Homo sapiens: one gene and its partner. Changing the gene in region 2 together with the main gene of any one other region gives a genetic interaction. Each region holds a gene or a part of one and is shown on either strand. Other genes may lie near its edges.

Region 1 (7,000 bases), on a different chromosome or scaffold from region 2:
CCTGGCCTCTCCCCGCTCCCGGCACCCACACCAATTTCGGAGCAAAGTTGTGGGGGAGCCCAGGTGTTGTCAGGACCAGGCCGCGTGTGCATGTGCTCAGGACGGCACTGACACACCAGCCCCCTGCTGCCTCATCTCCCTCTGGACTTTGGGCAGGCCAAGCGGTAGGCTGAGGGCAGCTCAATATGGGCCTGCAGGCGCCCCTCGGCACGAACAGCCTCGGTGTAGTGGGTGGCAGGTTGATGGCAGCAGGAAGTAGGCTCCTGGGAGGAAAGGGGTGGGTCCCCAGTGAAGACCCACCTTCAAGCCAGGAACAGCTTGAAGCCTGGAAGCCTGGCTGCCAGTTACACGGACCACAGCGAGAACTTAGGGTGCTTTTTCCAGGCCCACCCATGACTGCCTATGGACCAATTAGCATTCACTTCCTCCCTTCTGAAGCACATAAAAACTAAATTTTTGGTGGAACGCTAATACCCTTTTCCACAGTGGCTGTACCATTGTACACTCCCACCTGCAGTGGACAAGGGTTCCAATTTCTCCACATCTTCACCAACACACGTTATTTTCTGGGTGTTTTTTTATTATTATTTTATTTTCCCCTTTTGGCGACAGGGTCTAACCCTGTTGCCCAGGTTACTGTGCAGTGGTGCACCCATAACTCACTGCAGCCTCAACCTCCCAGCCTCAGGAGATCCTCCCACCTCAGCCTCCTGAGTAGCTGGCACCACAGGTGCATGTCACCACACCCAGCTAATTTTTTGTATTTTTTGTAGAGACAGGGTTTCACCACGTTGCCCAGGCTGGTCTCAATCTCCTGGGCTCAAGCGATCTGCCTGCTTTGACCTCCCAAAGTGCTGGGATTGTAGGCATGAGTCACCATGCCCAACTGTGTTTTTTTTTTGTGGGATTTTTTTTGTTTTTTGGTTTTTTTTGAGACAGAGTCTTGCTCTGTCACCAGGCTGGAGTGCAGTGGCATGATCTCAACTCACTGCAACCTCTGTCTCCCGGGTTCAAGCAATTCTCCTGCCTCAGCCTCTCAAGTAGCTGGTACTACAGGCATGCACCACCATGCCTGGCTAATTTTTTGTATTTTAGTAGAGATGGGGTTTTACCATGTTGGCCAGGATGGTCTCAATCTCCTGACCTCGTGATCCGCCTGCCTCAGCCTCCCAAAGTGCTGGGATTACAGGCATCAGCCAACATGCCCAGCCCCAACTGTTTTTTTATTAATAGCTATCATAATGGGTGTGAAACAGTATCCTGTGGTTTTGATTTGCATCTCCCTAATGATTAGTAATTGTGAGCATCTTCTCATGTGCTTATTTGTCCATTTGTATATCTTCTTTGGAGAAATGTCTATTCAAGTTCTTTTTCTGTTTTTCATCAGGTTATATTTGTTGTTAAGCTGTAGGAGTTCTTAATATATTCTAGATATTAAACTCCTTATCAGACATATGATTTGCAAATATTTTCTCCAGTTCCATGGGTTGCCTTTTCACTCTATTGATACTGCCCTTTGATGCACAAAGTTTTTAATTTTGATGAATTCCAATTTATCTGTTTATTTTGCTGCCTGTGCTTTGTGTCATATCAAAGAAATCATTGCCAAATCCAGTGTCATAATGTTTTCCCTCTATGTTCCCTTATTTTTATTTATTTATTTACTTTTTGAGACAGAGTTTCACTCTTGTTGCCCAGGCTGGAGTGCAATGGCGCGATCTCAGCTCACCGCAACCTCCGCCTCCTGGGTTCAAGCGATTCTCCTGCCTCAGCCTCCTGAGTAGCTGCGATTACAAGCATGTACCACCACGCCTGGCTAATTTTGTATATTTTTAGTAGAGACAGGGTTTCTCCATGTTGGTCAGGCTAGTCTGGAACTCCTGACCTCAGGTGATCCACCCATCTTGGCCTCCCAAAGTGCTGGGATTATAGGTGTGAGCCACCATGCCCGGCCCCCTCTATGTTCACTTCTAAGAGTTTCATAGTTTTAGTTCTTATGTTTAGGTATTTGTATGCCTTTTGGACTTTTAAAATTTTCCTGTAGCAGTAAAGAGAGAAGCCAGATTGCAAGGGGCTGAAAATCTAATGAAATGTGAATACTGAGAATAGCGGGTTCTTTCCAAAGCTTGATCATGAAATGAAGAGAAGTAGAGTTGGTGATAACTAAAGAACTGTATGAGATCAAGAGGGCTTTGTTTTGTTTCTCCCTTATAATGGAAAGACCTAAGCAACCAATTCTTGAGATGTGACTCCTCTTCTTGGAACCAGATATAAGTAAAAAGACAATCCTTGGACAGGAGGGTAACTCTTTCATAAACATAGAAAGAATGGATGGGTACAGACGCAAATAATTTAATAAATTCAAAAGGCAAGTAAAACAAGATCCTCTGCTTCAAAGAACTCAGAATAGTTGCTGGGGAGAGGAGAGGAATGCACTTAAATAATCAAAAGCGGCCGGGCATGGTGGCTCACGCCTGTAATACGAGCATTTTGGGAGGCTAAGGCAGGCGGATCATGAGGTCAGTAGATCTAAACCATCCCGGCTAACATGGTGAAACCCCATCTCTGCTGAAAACACAAAAATCAGCTGGGTGTGGTGGCGGGCGCCTGTAGTCCCAGCTGCTCAGGAGGCTGAGGCAGGAGAATCGCTTGAATCTGGGAGGCGGAGATTGCAGTGAGTCGAGATCGCGCCACTGTACTCCAGCCTGGGCGACAGAGCGAGACTCAGTCTCAATAAATAAATAAATAAATAAATAAATAAATAAATAAATAAATAATCAAAAGCAAGTATCATGTACACCCAAAGCAGGGAATGATTAACTCTACCTAGAGGATTCACAGTGGGTTATGTGTGAGTGATTAGCAAAGTCCATCACTTCTGACAAAACAACTTAGGGTGTAGTAAGACAGTTACTTATAAATAATAGCATATATTTCATATATGTCACAATTTATTTCTATATAGCACTGTAAAATGTTCATACATTTTCCCCACTTATTATCTCAAATAGTGGTAAAAGAAAAAGAGTGAATTTTTTTCTTTTTCTGATACAGAGTCTCGCTCTGTCGGCCAGGGTGAAGTGCAGTTAGTGGCACGATCTTGGCTCACTGCAACCTCCGCCACCCGGGCTCAAGCAATTCTCCTGCCTCAGCCTCCCAAGTAGCTAGGATTACAGGCGTGTGCCACCACACCCAGCTAATTTTTGTATTTTTAGTAGAGACGGGGTTTCACCATGTTGGCCAGGCTGGCTCGAACTCCTGACCTCAGGTAATCCGCCCGCCTCAGCCTCCCAAAGTGCTGAGATTACAGGCGTGAGCCACCGCACCCGGCCCTTTTTCTTTTTTTTTTCTTTTGAGACGGAGTCTCGCTCTGTCGCCCAGGCTGGAGCGCAGTGGTGTGATCTCGGCTCACTGCAACCTCCGCCTCGCAGCTTCAAGTGATTCTCCTGCCTCAGCCTCCCGAGTAGCTGGGACTACAGGCACGTGCCACCACGCCCGGCTAATTTTTTGTATTTTTAGTAGAGACGGGGTTGCACCATGTTAGCCAGGATGGTTTCGATTTACTGACCTCATGATCCATCCGCCTCGGTCTCCCAAAGTGCTGGGATTATCGGCGTGAGCCACCACGCCCGGCCTGACTTTTTTTTTTTTTTTTTTTTTTTTTTTGATTATTCAAACCACAAAGTCCAATCCTAATTGATTACATATAGGATCAATAGCATTTACAGCTAATAAATGCCATAAAAGAACTGATACTGGTCGGGCATGGTAGCTCATGCCTGTAATCCCAGTGCTTTGGGAGTCCAAGGTGGGCAGACTGCTTGAGCTCAGGAGTTTGAGACCAGCCTGAGCAACATGATGAAACCCTGTCTCTACAAAAGAAATAGAAAAATGAGCAGGTATAGAGACACACACCTGTAGTCCCCAGCTACTCAGGAGGCTGAGGTGGGAGGATCGCTTGAGCCTGGGAGGCTACAGTGAGCCAAGATTGTGTCACTGCACTCCAGCCTCGGTGACAAAACCAGACCCCTGTCTCCAAAAAATAGAAAAGAAAAAAAAGAACTGTTCTCTGGTCCTGGTACATAGTAGACATTTAAAGAAAAAAAAACAACTCTTCAATGAATGAATGGTTCATAAGAACCTTCCTGAATTTTGTGGTTTCTTCATTCCTAATGTACAGCCTTCTGGACCTATGGAATATTTACCTATTCCCTGCCACTAGACTATAAGCTCCTACAGGTGGCAGACTGTGCTTTATTTCTCTCTGCATGTCCTAAAGTGCCATTAGACCGTAAGCTCTTATAGGAGAGAAAATGCATTTTATTTCTTTTTGCCTCTGCTACATCACCTAGAACTTGCTTAATAGAAAAACTTACTGAAATTAACAAATGTTTTTAAGTAACATAAACTCTAGACACAAAGAATCAAAGGGCCAGGCGTGGTGGCTCATGCCTGTAATCACAGCACTTTGGGAGGCTGAGACGGACTGATCACTTCAGGTCAGGAGTTCCAGATCAGGCTGCCCAACATGGTGAAACCCTTTCTCTACTAAAAGATAGAAAAATTAGCCAGGCGTGGTGGTGGGCGCCTATAATCCTAGTTACTTGGGAAGCTGTGGCACTGAGGCAGGAGAATCGCTGGGACATGGAGGTGGAGGTTGCAGTGAGCCAAGATCGCACCACTGCACTCCAGCCTGGATGACAGAGTGAGACTTCATCTCAAAAAAAAAAAAAAAAAAAAGCAAGTTTGTATATGCTACTAAATAAAGTCCTTAAAAAAAAAAAAGAATCAAAGAACAAGTAGTTACATTTGCATATGAAAGCAAAACAACTTAGTGCTATGTATCTTATTTAAATCAGCGCTGGCCAATAGAAATATAACGTAAGCCATAATTTTGTTATTTTCTGGTAGCCACATTAAGAAAAGAAACAGGAAAAAAACAATTGATCCTAACAATATATCTGAAATATTAGGTGAATGTGTAATCGATATAAAAATTATTCATGAGATCTTTTACATTCTTTTTTCTGGTACTAAGTCTTTGAAACCCACTGTGTATCTTATATTTACAGCACATCTCAATTTAGACTAGCCGCATGTGAGGTGGTCAATGGTCACATTTGGCTAGTGGCTACCATAGTATAGGGCATCACAAATTTAACAAAAAATTCAAAATCTGTAATTACAAGGTAACATGAATTGTTTTAGACAAAGTCAGGAGACATTATGATAAACCACAGTAATTTCACAAGTATCATTTAAAAATGTGAACAAAGAGGAACATGGGAAGAGGAGCCAGGATTGTGGGTAGTGGTCAGAGTTTCTTACAAAGTTTCATTTTGTAAAGATTATGTACTCATGTATTATTTGTGTAATTTTTAAAAATCAGTTTTAGAAAAATGTAAATTGATTACCATTCATTAGATCTACTATCAGAAGAAAGAAACTTGGCCGGGCGTGGTGGCTCATGTCTGTAATCCCAGCACTTTGGGAGGCTGAGGTGGGCGGATCACTTGAGCCCAGGAGTTTGAGACCAGCCTGGGCAACATGGTGAAACCCCGTCTACAAAAATACAAAAATTAGCCAGGCATGGTGGCACACACCTGTAGTCCCAGCTACTTGGGAGGCTGAGGTGGGAGGATCGCTTGACCCCAGGAGGCAGAGGTTGCAGTGAGACATGTTCATGCTATTGAACTCCAGCCTGAGCAACAGGTGAGCCAGTCTCAAAAAAAAAAAAAAAAAAAGAAAAAAGAAAGAAAACTCACAGGAGTGAGCACTTCTTATTTTGTGACTTCTACCCTGGAACTGAGCTAAGAGGGTATAACTTTTCAAAAGCATACTATAAAATTTGAGTATTAATGTAAGTATTATATAAAGCTTAGGCACCTCCTCTGAGGTAAGCATCAAATACCAGGATAACCAAGACAGAATGCACCTGCCCTAAAATAATTTGCAGATTAAAGGACAAACAAGAGGTAATTATGGTTAAGAACTGACAGGCCCAAGAAAGAACACAAAGGGACACTCAGCCCTGAGCAGGGCCCTGTCAGTCATGGCTTCCTTAACGAGGTGATACAAAACTGACTCCCTAAGGGACAAGGCAGTGAAATAAGGGTAAGAGGGAGGGTAGTCCAAGCACTGGAAACTGTAAGAGGCTCTATGTGGCTAAAGCCTTTAGAGATGCAGCTGAAGAGGGAAGATAAGGTTAAATTTCAAAGGACTGGCTAAGTAGTTTGGATTTTACACTGAAGGCAATGTGTAAGCACTGAAGGATTTTAAGGAAGTAAAAATTAAGCAAGTTTTAAAAAACTTGCTTATTTCCCTGTTTAAAAGATTCCAATGGTTTCCCATCACACAATAAAATCTCACTCCTTTTTCTAGCCTCCAAGGTGCTGAAGGATGTGGCCCTTGCCTACCCCTCCCTGTTTAACTCATACCACTCCCCTCTTTACTCCCTGTGCTCCAGCCTTCTTACTATCCTTTTAAAAGTAGGCTCATTCAGCCTTGGCATGGTGGCTGAGGTGGGTGCATCACTTGAGGTCAGGAGTTGGAGACAACCTGTGCAACATGGTAAAACCCCATCTTCACTAACAATATAAAAATTAGCTCGGTGGTGCAAGCCTGTAGTCCCAGCTACAGGAAAGGGAGGCTGAGACAGGAAAATCGCTTGAACCCGGGAGGCAGAGGTTGCAGTGAGCAGAGATCACGCCACTGGAGAGGGCGAGACTCCGTCTCAAAAAAAAAAAAAAAAAAGCAGGCTCATTCCCACTTATGGGCCTTTGTACTTCCTATTCCATCCCAGATTCACGTGACTAGCTTCTTTACACCATCAAATCTCCTCTAGTGGCTAATGCTGCTGCTCCTCAGAACCTCCTCCACATCCCACTGTTCCATTTAACATTTTAATAGCAACTATCACATTTGAAAATGTCTTACAACTACAAAGCAATCTCAAGTAGGAAAATCAGAGAAGGTGATTCTGAAATGACATCTAAATGAA
Region 2 (11,798 bases):
CTCCCTCCATCCTCTGGCTCTTTGCCTGGGGATCTCCTGTGGGCCCATCTCTCTGGTTCCTGTTTCTCCTTGTGGCTTTCTCATGGCCTCTACCTACCCACCCCAGTCATCCCAGATCCCGAAGAGGAACCAGAGCGCAAGCGAAAGAAGGGCCCAGCCCCGAAGATGCTGGGCCACGAGCTTTGCCGTGTCTGTGGGGACAAGGCCTCCGGCTTCCACTACAACGTGCTCAGCTGCGAAGGCTGCAAGGGCTTCTTCCGGCGCAGTGTGGTCCGTGGTGGGGCCAGGCGCTATGCCTGCCGGGGTGGCGGAACCTGCCAGATGGACGCTTTCATGCGGCGCAAGTGCCAGCAGTGCCGGCTGCGCAAGTGCAAGGAGGCAGGGATGAGGGAGCAGTGTGAGTGCAGCGGGAGGGGGCGGTGCCGGCCTGGCCCCCCGCCTAGCCCTGGGGTTCTGCTGAGGCCTGCATCCCCCTACAGGCGTCCTTTCTGAAGAACAGATCCGGAAGAAGAAGATTCGGAAACAGCAGCAGGAGTCACAGTCACAGTCGCAGTCACCTGTGGGGCCGCAGGGCAGCAGCAGCTCAGCCTCTGGGCCTGGGGCTTCCCCTGGTGGATCTGAGGCAGGCAGCCAGGGCTCCGGGGAAGGCGAGGGTGTCCAGCTAACAGCGGCTCAAGAACTAATGATCCAGCAGTTGGTGGCGGCCCAACTGCAGTGCAACAAACGCTCCTTCTCCGACCAGCCCAAAGTCACGGTACTGCCCCCTCCACAACCTTGAGTGTGACGGTCCCAATGGGGTAGAGCCAGCTGGGCCATCACCCAGGGTGTGGGAGAATGAGGCTCCAGAGGGCAGGGGCTTTGGGAAGAGGATCCCCCAGGGTGCAGGCTTGGCCTCAAGGTGGCCACCCAGACTTAGGCTCACAAAGACCTGGGAGTGACCCTGGTCTCCTGTGTCCCAGCCCTGGCCCCTGGGCGCAGACCCCCAGTCCCGAGATGCCCGCCAGCAACGCTTTGCCCACTTCACGGAGCTGGCCATCATCTCAGTCCAGGAGATCGTGGACTTCGCTAAGCAAGTGCCTGGTTTCCTGCAGCTGGGCCGGGAGGACCAGATCGCCCTCCTGAAGGCATCCACTATCGAGGTAATGGTCCATCTGCCCACAAGGAACCCCAGAGATAGCTCCAGGACAGATGCTGGGAGCAGAGTTAAGGAAGACCAGTGCTTGCCGTTGTAGGATGACATTCCACGGCGAATAGAGTCTTCTATGAGCCAAGGAGAGAAAGGAAAAAGGGTCTGAGGCTGAGAAAATTGAGGATCAGGCTAGAGGCGCTATTGCAGAGAAAAGTTGCCAAAAAGGCTTTTCAGAGGAGTTAGCATTTGAATCAAAGTAGGGATAACATATAAGTATTGAGCACGTGCTGTATGCCAGGCTCTATTCCAAGTGTTGGCATATGGGGCAAAGAACAAAGCAGATCAAACCCCGTGCCCCAAACCTTGTGCTCACCTGGGGAAAGAGTATCCTAAGGAGATGGGGATGCAGCATGTGCGGAAGCCTGAAGTGGAGAAAGAGCTCGGGCTGTCTCACGTGATGGCTGCACGCTGGTGTGGCTGAGAGAACAGGGGGGAAGGGGACAAGGGATAATCCTGGTGAGATTAGACCCCCATTTGGGCCAGGAGGGGAGGGACTAGCAGCTGAAGGGTCACAGGGCTCAAGCTCCCCCTCCCGCTGCCGCCCTTAGATCATGCTGCTAGAGACAGCCAGGCGCTACAACCACGAGACAGAGTGTATCACCTTCTTGAAGGACTTCACCTACAGCAAGGACGACTTCCACCGTGCAGGTAGGGCCCAGGGGAGGCTTCGGGGAGGCTTGGCGCCCCTGCTGGCTGGAAGACCTGGGGCCAACTCATCCCTGTTGGAGTCTCTGTTTCTTTATCTCCAAAGTTGGGGTGAGGGTTGAGCCAAGGTGAGAGTGAGGTAAGAGTGCATGTGCCACGTGTGGTGGTGCACGCCAATAGTCCCAGCCACTCGAGGCTGAGGAGGGCAGATTGCTTGAGGCTATAGTGAGCCGTGATTGTGCGACGGCATTCCAGCCTGGTGACAGAGAAGACCGTGTCTCTATTTTTTAAAAAAAGCATGTATTGAGTGCCGACTCTGTACATTGGGTTGCAGTGGAAGTTGAGATGGGAGGAGCCCTGTTACCACATCAGGCATCTTGGTGGGCATTAGGAAAAGCATTCCCCGCCCCCGCCAAAACGTGGTCTCACCCAAGGGAGGCGGGCTGGAGCTCGGTCCATTGTGAAGCGGGCAGCCTTCTTTACTGTCTAGGGGAGCACTGCTTCCTGCCCTCTGAGAGCGCTAACCTGCGTGGGTGGGCTTCTGGAAGAAGGCCTGGGCAGTGAGAGGCACTGCCTAGGAAAAGGGTGGGAGGAGCATTGCTAGTGCTGCAGAGCATGCACCAGGGCCTCGCTCCCTCATTGTCCCACAATCTCTGGGGGACCTCTCTGTATTTCCCGACATCTGTCCAAACCCCACCCTCTCCCCTTCCTCTTACTCCGGCCCTTTCACCACCCGAGACGGTCCCAGTAACCCTTTTAGTATGAGCTTAGCAGGGCAGGGCTGCAGGGAAGCGTTTCTGGCAGAGGAGATTGGCGATTGCAGAGGCCCTGAGGTTGGGGAGAGCTGGTGGTTTGGAGGAACTACAGGGAGGCCCAGGCAGCTGGAGCACAAGGAGATGGGGTGGAGAGGAGGTCGGGAATCCCACCCTACCCCTTCCCAGCCGCTCCTCTGCCACCACCCTGGAACACTGCCAGGGTCCCCTTGAGGGGCCGCCTGCCTCCACCCCTGCCTGATGGGGCTGCTCACAGCACAGGCAGAAGGGTCCTGTCAGCACTTAAGGCTGCCCACTTCCCTCCTCCGCTCAGAACCCTCCGCGGCTCCCGTCTCACTGGGAGAAGAGCTAGAGTCCTCTCTGTGGCCCACAAAGCCCTTTAGGACCTGGCCTCGCTCACTCTCTGCCCTCAGCTCTCACCCTCTCCCCCTGTTCCAGCCACTCTGGCCTCTTACTGGCACCCATCCAGCATGCTGCAGCCAAGGGCCTGTGTACTTGGAGTTTCCTCTGCCCAGAACTAGGGGGACCAACTGGTCCTAGTTTGCCCAGGACCTTCCCAGTTTTAACACTGAAAGTCTCATGGCCTGGGTAGCCCCCGTCCCAAGTCATGGGAACAGCAGACGTTGGTCACCCTCACAATCCCTCATCTCCTTCGGATTGGTCACTGCTCCAGCGTCACCCAGAGCGCAGCCTTCCCTGCCCGCCTTGTGTAAAATAGAACCATGGCTCAGCAGGGCCCTTCACACTTCTCTGCACTGCCTGGTTCCATTGAACTCACAGCCCTCTGACAGGCTGGGCCTCTTCCTAATGTGTTTGTCTATGACCGGTCCCCTAGGCTCTCAAATGTAAGTGCTGGAGCCTGGCACGTGGCAGGTACTCAGTGACATTTGATGACTGAATGAACAAGTCAGTTTTGGGAATGAGTTTGGGCTTTACCTTGAGCAGTGGAAGCCAGCGCTGGGACCAGCACGATGTGACCTAGGTTTTAAAAGCTTCCCTTTGCCTTTGTGAAGGGGACAAGAATAGGGACTCGGGAAGCTGCAGCCACCGCCCAGGTGGGAAGGGAGGGTGGTGATAGGATAGTAGAAAATACTGAAGAAACATGCACCCTCATTCATTCCTTCACTGGGCAGCATGTGTGGCACACCTACTACATGCCAGCACTCATGGGCACGGGGCACAGGTGGACAGAAATGACAAGAACGCTGTAATTACTGCTGTGTTCCCAGCCCCAGAGACTGTGGGCAGCGCCAGGGTCCAGGATGTGGGGCACGGTTTCGGGCTGAGGGAGTCACGGGCTGCCTCCCGCCCCGCAGGCCTGCAGGTGGAGTTCATCAACCCCATCTTCGAGTTCTCGCGGGCCATGCGGCGGCTGGGCCTGGACGACGCTGAGTACGCCCTGCTCATCGCCATCAACATCTTCTCGGCCGACCGGCCCAACGTGCAGGAGCCGGGCCGCGTGGAGGCGTTGCAGCAGCCCTACGTGGAGGCGCTGCTGTCCTACACGCGCATCAAGAGGCCGCAGGTAGGGCCCCGCAGAGCCTCTGCGCAGAGCCAACTACGTCCCGCGGCCCACGTGGTCCGTTCAGGCTGGGTTCTGCCAGCCACACTGCCCTCCCCTCCGCAGAGTCTTTCCTCAGGCCCCACCCTGCTCGACTGGGAGCCAGGTCTAGTCCAAGCACAGAGGCGGGCCCCACGCTGGCTCCCACGCCTGGTCGGGGAGGGGCCCTCCTTTCTGTTGGGGTGGGCCTCCCAAAGCCTGGCAGGGCAGGGGCTCAGCCAGCGCCCACCTGCCTCCTCCCTCAGGACCAGCTGCGCTTCCCGCGCATGCTCATGAAGCTGGTGAGCCTGCGCACGCTGAGCTCTGTGCACTCGGAGCAGGTCTTCGCCTTGCGGCTCCAGGACAAGAAGCTGCCGCCTCTGCTGTCGGAGATCTGGGACGTCCACGAGTGAGGGGCTGGCCACCCAGCCCCACAGCCTTGCCTGACCACCCTCCAGCAGATAGACGCCGGCACCCCTTCCTCTTCCTAGGGTGGAAGGGGCCCTGGGCCGAGCCTGTAGACCTATCGGCTCTCATCCCTTGGGATAAGCCCCAGTCCAGGTCCAGGAGGCTCCCTCCCTGCCCAGCGAGTCTTCCAGAAGGGGTGAAAGGGTTGCAGGTCCCGACCACTGACCCTTCCCGGCTGCCCTCCCTCCCCAGCTTACACCTCAAGCCCAGCACGCAGTGCACCTTGAACAGAGGGAGGGGAGGACCCATGGCTCTCCCCCCTAGCCCGGGAGACCAGGGCCTTCCTCTTCCTCTGCTTTTATTTAATAAAAACTAAAAACAGAAACAGGAAAATAAAATATGAATACAATCCAGCCCGGAGCTGGAGTGCAAGATGGAGAGGGCGCGGGCTTCTAGGGACCTCAGTGACACTGGGTGCCCGAACCTGATTGAGCAGGTGGGACTGGGTGTCCCCAGGCTGTTGGGAAAAGGGTGGCACATAGGGTCCCAGTGTTGGGTGGTGTGTCGCCTGCTGTGAAAGTTCAGGACAGAGGCCTCAGCCTCAGGGTCACCTCCCTGGACAAGGTGAATCAGAACTCACCCTTGAAGGATAAACAGGATTTAAGTGAATGAGGGGACCTGGACTTCTGTCCGAACAACAAGTGTTTGCTGAGGCCTCCTGTGGGCCAGGCACTGGGTTGGCCATTCTAGAGATGGAGACATTCACCCAATAAATGTTTCCAGAGCATTAACTACAGTTAGGCACAATTCTAGGCACTGGAAACATCTGTGAACAAGATAACCATCCTCCTACCAAGACTCGGGGGATAGGGACTTTAATGAGCGTGGCACTGTGGTGGGGCTAGAGGAAATCAGGGAAGGTATCACAACAGAGGCAATCGCTGGGACCTAAAACAAGAGCCTGGGGGCTGGGCCTCCAAGTTGAGGGAACAGCACGTGCAAAGTTTGAAAGGAGAGACGCCAGGAGTTCGGAGCGAAGCGACGAAGTTCCTCCAATCCTTCCTGCCCCTGTGCCAGCCCTGAAGGAGCTGAATGAGCAATTCCAATCGAGGGCGAAAGGGGGGTTGGATGGAGGGATGCAACTTAAAGGTGTATTTATTTGGGGCGGGGAACAGCGGAAGTGAGAGTAGTTACCAATGATCACCTTATCCTAAGAGTAGTGTACCGGGCGCCCCACAAGTGTCCCTATCATGCGTTGTTGAGTCTAATTTACGTATAGGGAAACTGAAGCTAGGATGAAGGAGAACAGATCAAGCCAGGACTCTACCGCTTATCGGCCAGCCTCTGCGGGGATCTTGGGCGTCAGGTCACCAGCTGGCTGCTGGGCAGCGACGGGGCAGCGCTCCCTACACGGCCCCGGGCGAGAGGCGGGCGGGGGGACGCGGAGGATGCGCGCGCAACACCCGAGGGTGGGAGGAGAGAGAACAGAACCGCGGCGCGCCCAGACCGCACGAGGTCGTGAAGGTAGCCGCGCGGAGGGGCGTGGCTTCGGGCAGACAGGTCATGGGGAGGCGGAGTTAAGGGAATTTTTCAGCAAGGGGGCGAGGCCACTTCGGAAGCTGAGAGAGGGGGCGGGGCCTGCCCTGCAGTCGAACAAGCGGGGCGTGGCCTTGCCCGCACTTGGGCAGGCGGGGGCGTGGCCCGTCTCTGAGCGCCGCGGCTCTGGGCTTGCGCGCGCGGGAGTCAGGGGTCACGGCGGCGTAGGCTGTGGCGGGAAACGCTGTTTGAAGCGGGTGAGTAGAGGGGAAAAAGGGAGTTCGGGGCAGTGGGCCTGGTAGGGAACGGGGCTTGAGCAGCCAGGCACATAGATCTGAGAGACGGTTGCGAGGGCACCCTTTGGCCCGGGGGCGCGCAGGAGAGGGCAGGGGCCAGGGGTTTCCTGGGCGAGGGCGCGGGGACGAGCAGGAAAAGGCCGGGGTGGGGGTGGAATTCCTCGGCGGGCAGGGGGCGCATGCGCCGGGCACCGTGGGGCGGGACGTGGCCCGGGAGGAGCTGGGGGGACTGGGTGGTGCACGTGCGGGCTTGGTGTCATCCTGGATTCGCTGGGTGTTTGAGTACTCTGTGCCAGGCACTTTTCTGGAAGCAGGAACAAGTCAGAGAAGTCCCTGTCTCGGGAAGACAGACGGTAGACAAGTGATGAGTTTTAATAGATCAGTAAAGCAGTGCTCTGGGGCTGTGAGATGCTCTCAGAAGGAAACTAACGCAGGGTAACGTGATAATGAGCGAAGAGCCTGTTGCTTTAGCTGGAGTGGTCCAGAATCGACCGCTCTGGGACCCTCAAGTGCAAAGCCCTGAGGTGGAAGGAGCTTGGCGTATTTGTAGCAGGAGCCGAGGGGACGAGAGAAACACAGATGAGGTCGGAGTCATGATGGGGAACTAGATCCTATAGGGCCTTGTAAAACTTGGTATGGAATTTCTCCTTTATTCTAGGTTCAGCGGGGAGCCGTGGGAGGGTTTGAGCGTGGAAACAACACGATTCGCCCCATGTTTTGAAAAACTCACCACTGAGTGGAAATTGGATTGTAGCAGGAATAAGAATGGAAGGAGGGAGATCTGTTAGGAGGGAGAGCGTCCTGCAGGCAGAGAATCAGGCTCCGGTTACCTTTGCGGGCGGAGACAGGGGGACTGGCTGATGGACTGGGCGTAGGAGCAAGGGGAAGAGTCCAGGATGACTCCTGGGTTTGTGGTTTGAGCAGCAGGCTGGATGGGGAAGGCTAAGGGAGAAGCAGGTTGGGGTTGCCGCTCTGAAGGCAAAGATTAGTGGGGGAGTGAGTGGGCAGGGTTTAGAGCGGAGCCAGGAGTGGGCAGGGCGATGTCAGTGCCTCGCCTCAGCCCTTCCACTGAAGGAACTTGTTGCCACTGTCTTCTCTTTTTTTTTTTTTTTTTTTTGAGACAGAGTCTTGCTCTGTCACCCAGGCTGGAATGCAGTGGTGCAAACTCAGCTCATTGCAACCTCCGCCTCCCGAGTTCAGGCGAGTCTCGTGCCTCAGCCTCCTGAGTAGCTGGGATTACGGCACCCACTGCCATGCCCAGCTCATTTTTTGTATTTTTAGTAGAGATGGGGTTTCGCCGTGTTGGCCAGGCTGGTCTCGAACTCCTGACCTCAGGTGATCCACTTGCCTCGGCCTCCCAAAGTGCTGGGATTACAGGCGTGAGCCACCACGCACGGCCGCTTCTCCTCCTTCCTGCACTTCCCCCCCACAGGTCTCTCTTCCCCCTAGAGAGGTTCCTTCCCTCCCCCTGAAATGCTCTTCCCTCTCTTATGTGTTTCTGACAGCTGCTGTTTGGACAGGCCCTCTGCTGAGCACTGGGGAGCCAATGATCATTCAGTTTGGTTGGGGAAGGACAGGAGATTTCAGTCCAGAGTGCGCTGAGCTATGGCGGAGCAGTGATAGTCTTTGGGAGCCAAGAGAAGAACCTGTGCGCTCAGGGAAGACTCACCAGAGTGGTTGATATTCACAGGGAGTTTCAACTCACATGTCTTTTTTTTTTTGGTTTTTGAGACAGGGTCTTGCTCTGTCGCCCAGGCTGGAGTGCAGTGGCGCGATCTCGGCTCACTAACCTCCACCTCCCGGGTTCAAGCGATTCTCATGCCTCAGGCTTCCGAGTAGCTGGGATTACAGGTGTGTGCCACCACGCCCAGCTAATTTTTGTATTTTTAGTAGAGACAGGGTTTTGTCATGTTGCCCAGACTGGTCTCGAATCCCTGACCTCAAGTAATCCTCCCACCTCGGCCTCCCAAAGTGCTGGGATTACAGGTGTGAGCCACCACACCCGGCCTAAACTCATGTCTTGAAGTAACCGGACACTGTGCAGAGTGATGCTGGAGACCCCAACTTGGGCAAGATGCTGACTCCTTTTCTCAAGGAGCTCACAGGCTGAAAGGATCCCAGCTCTGCATTGTGCAATAACGAAAGTGGCACAAGGCGTTGTGGGAACCCTGAAGGGCAGCTGGTCAGCTTGGAGGAGCTAAGCCTGAGCTGAGTCTCTGGATGCAGTGGAGTTTCATGCAGCGAACACTGCCTAAGGCCTCCTGGGGGCCCACCCTGTGCTGGGTGATGCTAAGGTCCCAGAGGAGAGTCAGTCCTTGCTCTGCCATCCAGAGGTCCCTGGCTGGTAAGGGAGGAAGACACACACCCAGGCAGTCCAGAGACAGCAGTCACAGAGGCCTAGGGGAAGGACAAGGCCGAAAGCATGCAGGTGAGCCTGGGCAACATAGCAAGACCCTGTCTCTACAAAAAATACAAAAGCTAGGCCGGGCGCGGTGGCTAAGGCCTGTAATCCCAGCACTTTGGGAGGCCGAGGCGGGCAGATCATGAGGTCAGGAGACCAAGACCATCCTGGCTAACACGGTGAAACCCCGTCTCTACTAAAAATACAAAAAATTAGCCGGGCGTGGTGGTGGGCGCCTGTAATCCCAGCACTTTGGGAGGCCGAGGTGGACGGATCACTTGAGGTGAGGAGTTTGAGACCAGTCTGGCAGACATGGTGAAACTCTACTAAAAATACACAACTAGCTGGACATGGTGGGCGCCTGTAATCCCAGCTACCTGCGAGGCTGAGGCAGGAGAATCACTTGAGTCCAGGAGGCGGAGGTTGCAGTGAGCAAGATCCTTTCCCAAAAAAATATATAAATAAAAATAAAGCTGTGAGATTGGGCAAGATTGGATGAGGTCATTGAGGAAATGAGTGTCTCACTCATCGAGAAAACTGGTGTCTGGCCTGCAGCGAGCACGTGGTGTCATTTTGTTGCTGAATCTCTGTTAAGTGCTTGCTACCGAAGGGTCGTGAGAGGGGCAGAGGACAGTGTTTGCCAAGCTCTCATCCTGTGCCAGGGCCAATGAGAGGGGACACACAGGGGCCTTTCCTTCCTAATGCTGCTGTGCCTCCACTAACAAGAGCCCAGGTTTTGCCCCTGGTGACACCGTCCCTCCCACCGCACCCCCGCAGCCACAGCCAACTGACCAAGGGCAGCCAGTCAGCTCCTTCCTTCCTCCTCCAGCTTCAGCACTGACTCTGGGCTCCCACAAGCCCCTGCGCTTCCTCTGTCCCACCCGGGTCTCTCCTCGCAGATCATCACTCCCTGTCCCTCTCTGGCTACTTGCACAACCCGAAGCCAGAGCCGCTAACGACGCTTGCTTCTTCCTGTAAGTCACACATGTACGCGGTTGTCACCCAAAGAGCACAAACGCAGTCAAAGTCTTCCTCACACAAAACCCCCTGCACACGCTCACGGCTGCACCACTCACAAAAGGTGGAAGCAACCCTAATGTCCATCCACTGATGAAGGGATACGTCAGACGTGTTCTAGCCATACAGCGGAAAAGTACTCAGCAAAAAAGGGACACAGCACTGACGAAAGGCCGCCACACACATGAGCGATGAACACATTCAGAGAAAGCAGCCAGACACAAGAGGCTGCATATTCCAAGATCCCATTTATAGGAAATGCCCAGAATAGGCAGATCCATGGAGACAGAAAGTTAGATGAGTGGCTGCCAGGGGTGGGGGCAGATGGGCTGAATGCAGGGAGAGAGCTAAAGGATTTAGGCTTTTTGGGGTGATGAGAGAGTTCTAAAATTGACTGTGGTGATGGTTGCCTAACTCTGAACATACTAAATACCATTGAACTATATATACTTTAAATGGGTGAATTGTATAGTATGTGAATTATAGCTCAATAAAGCAGTTAGCAAATGAAGTCTTCTACCCTGTCCCCCAGGAAACCAGTTTCTTAGCTCTCCTTATAGAATGATGCATTAAAAGCAAATAGATTTATACATATGCCCTGCATTACAATAAAAAAGACGTCTACATACTCCCTGCATTACAATAAAAAAGACGTCTACATACTCCCTGCATTAAAAGCAAAAAGATTTCTACATACTCTTCTGCCCACCTTGTAAATTTGTTACTATTTTCATTTTATATATTTCCCCCTTAATATTTTGAAAAGTTTCAAACCTGCAGAGAAGGTACAAATTGAGTACAGTGAACAGCCATGGCCCTTTGCCTAGATTCACTGGCTGTTGGCATGACACCTCATTTGCTTTATGCTTTATCCAAGCACATGCATATACCTGTACCTTTTGTCCTTTTTTTGGCTGAACTATTTGAAAGTTGTGGTCATCATGATACTTCACCTCTGAAAACTCCAGCAGTTAACTCTTTTTTTTTTTTTTTTTTTTTTTTTGAGACGGAGTCTTGCTCTGTCACCCAGGCTGGAGTACAGTGGTGCGACCTTGGCTCACTGCAACCTCTGCCTCCCAGGTTCAAGCGATTCTCCTATTGCAGCTTCCTGAGTAGCTGGGACTATAGGCGCGCACCACCACATCTGGCTAATTTTTGTATTTTTAGTAAAGATGGGGTTTCACCATCTTTGCCAGGCTGCTCTTGAACTCCTGACCTTATGATCTACGTGCCTCTGCCTCCCAGAGTGCTGGGATTACAGGCATGAGCCACCGCACCTGGCCTCTTTTTTTTTTTTTGGTACAGTATTTTACTCTGTCATGCAGGTTGTAGTGCAGTGGGGTGGTCACAGCTCACTGCAGCCTCGACCTCCCCAGGCTCAGCTGATCCTCAGCCTCTCGAGTAGCTGGGACTAAAGGTGTGTGCCACCACACCCTGCTAATTTTTATATTGTTTATAGAGACAGGGTGTCACCATGTTGCCTAGGCTGATCTCAAACTCCTGGGTTCAAGCAATCCCCCTGCCTCGGCCTCCAAATGTCCTGGGATTACAGCCGTGAGCCACCGTACCTGGCCTCCAGCAGTCAGCTCTTAAGAACAGGGATGTCCGCCTGCAGAACTACAGTGTCATTGTCATCATCATGCAGTTTAACATGAGACAGTGACGTTATTGAATAGACGATTCTTATTTAGATCTGCCACGTGTCCCTGTAATATTCTTCAAGGCTATAAATAATTTCTTATTTTTTTTTTTTTTCCAAGACTGAGTCTTGCTCTATCGCCCAGGCTGGAGTGCAGTGGCACTATCTCGGCTCACTGCAACCTCTGCCTCCTGGGTTCAAGCCATTCTCTTGCCTCAGCCTCCCGAATAGCTGGAATTACAGGCATGCACCACCACGCCCGGCTAATTTTTTTGTATTTTTTGTAGAGACGGGGTTTCATTTTGGCCAGGCTGGTCTCGAACCCCTGACCTCAGGTGATCCGCCCGCCTTGGG

What was found.
Region 1: changes in POLD1 (region 2) and ATR are lethal when combined (synthetic lethality), as found in Homo sapiens cells (2 studies listed by BioGRID).

Annotation. Positions count from the first base shown.
Region 1 is NC_000003.12:142,568,734-142,575,733, forward strand, and holds part of ATR (serine/threonine-protein kinase ATR), read right to left. Parts: intron 1-7,000. UniProt on the Homo sapiens protein: Serine/threonine protein kinase which activates checkpoint signaling upon genotoxic stresses such as ionizing radiation (IR), ultraviolet light (UV), or DNA replication stalling, thereby acting as a DNA damage sensor.
Region 2 is NC_000019.10:50,378,043-50,389,840, forward strand, and holds the start of POLD1 (DNA polymerase delta catalytic subunit), read left to right. Parts: upstream 1-6,304; 5' UTR 6,305-6,348; intron 6,349-7,892; exon of another isoform or gene 7,893-8,815; intron 8,816-9,617; exon of another isoform or gene 9,618-9,762; intron 9,763-11,798. Other genes in the region: NR1H2 (oxysterols receptor LXR-beta), read left to right, coding at 107-397, 480-754, 960-1,139, 1,738-1,837, 3,924-4,132, 4,414-4,560. UniProt on the Homo sapiens protein: As the catalytic component of the trimeric (Pol-delta3 complex) and tetrameric DNA polymerase delta complexes (Pol-delta4 complex), plays a crucial role in high fidelity genome replication, including in lagging strand synthesis, and repair.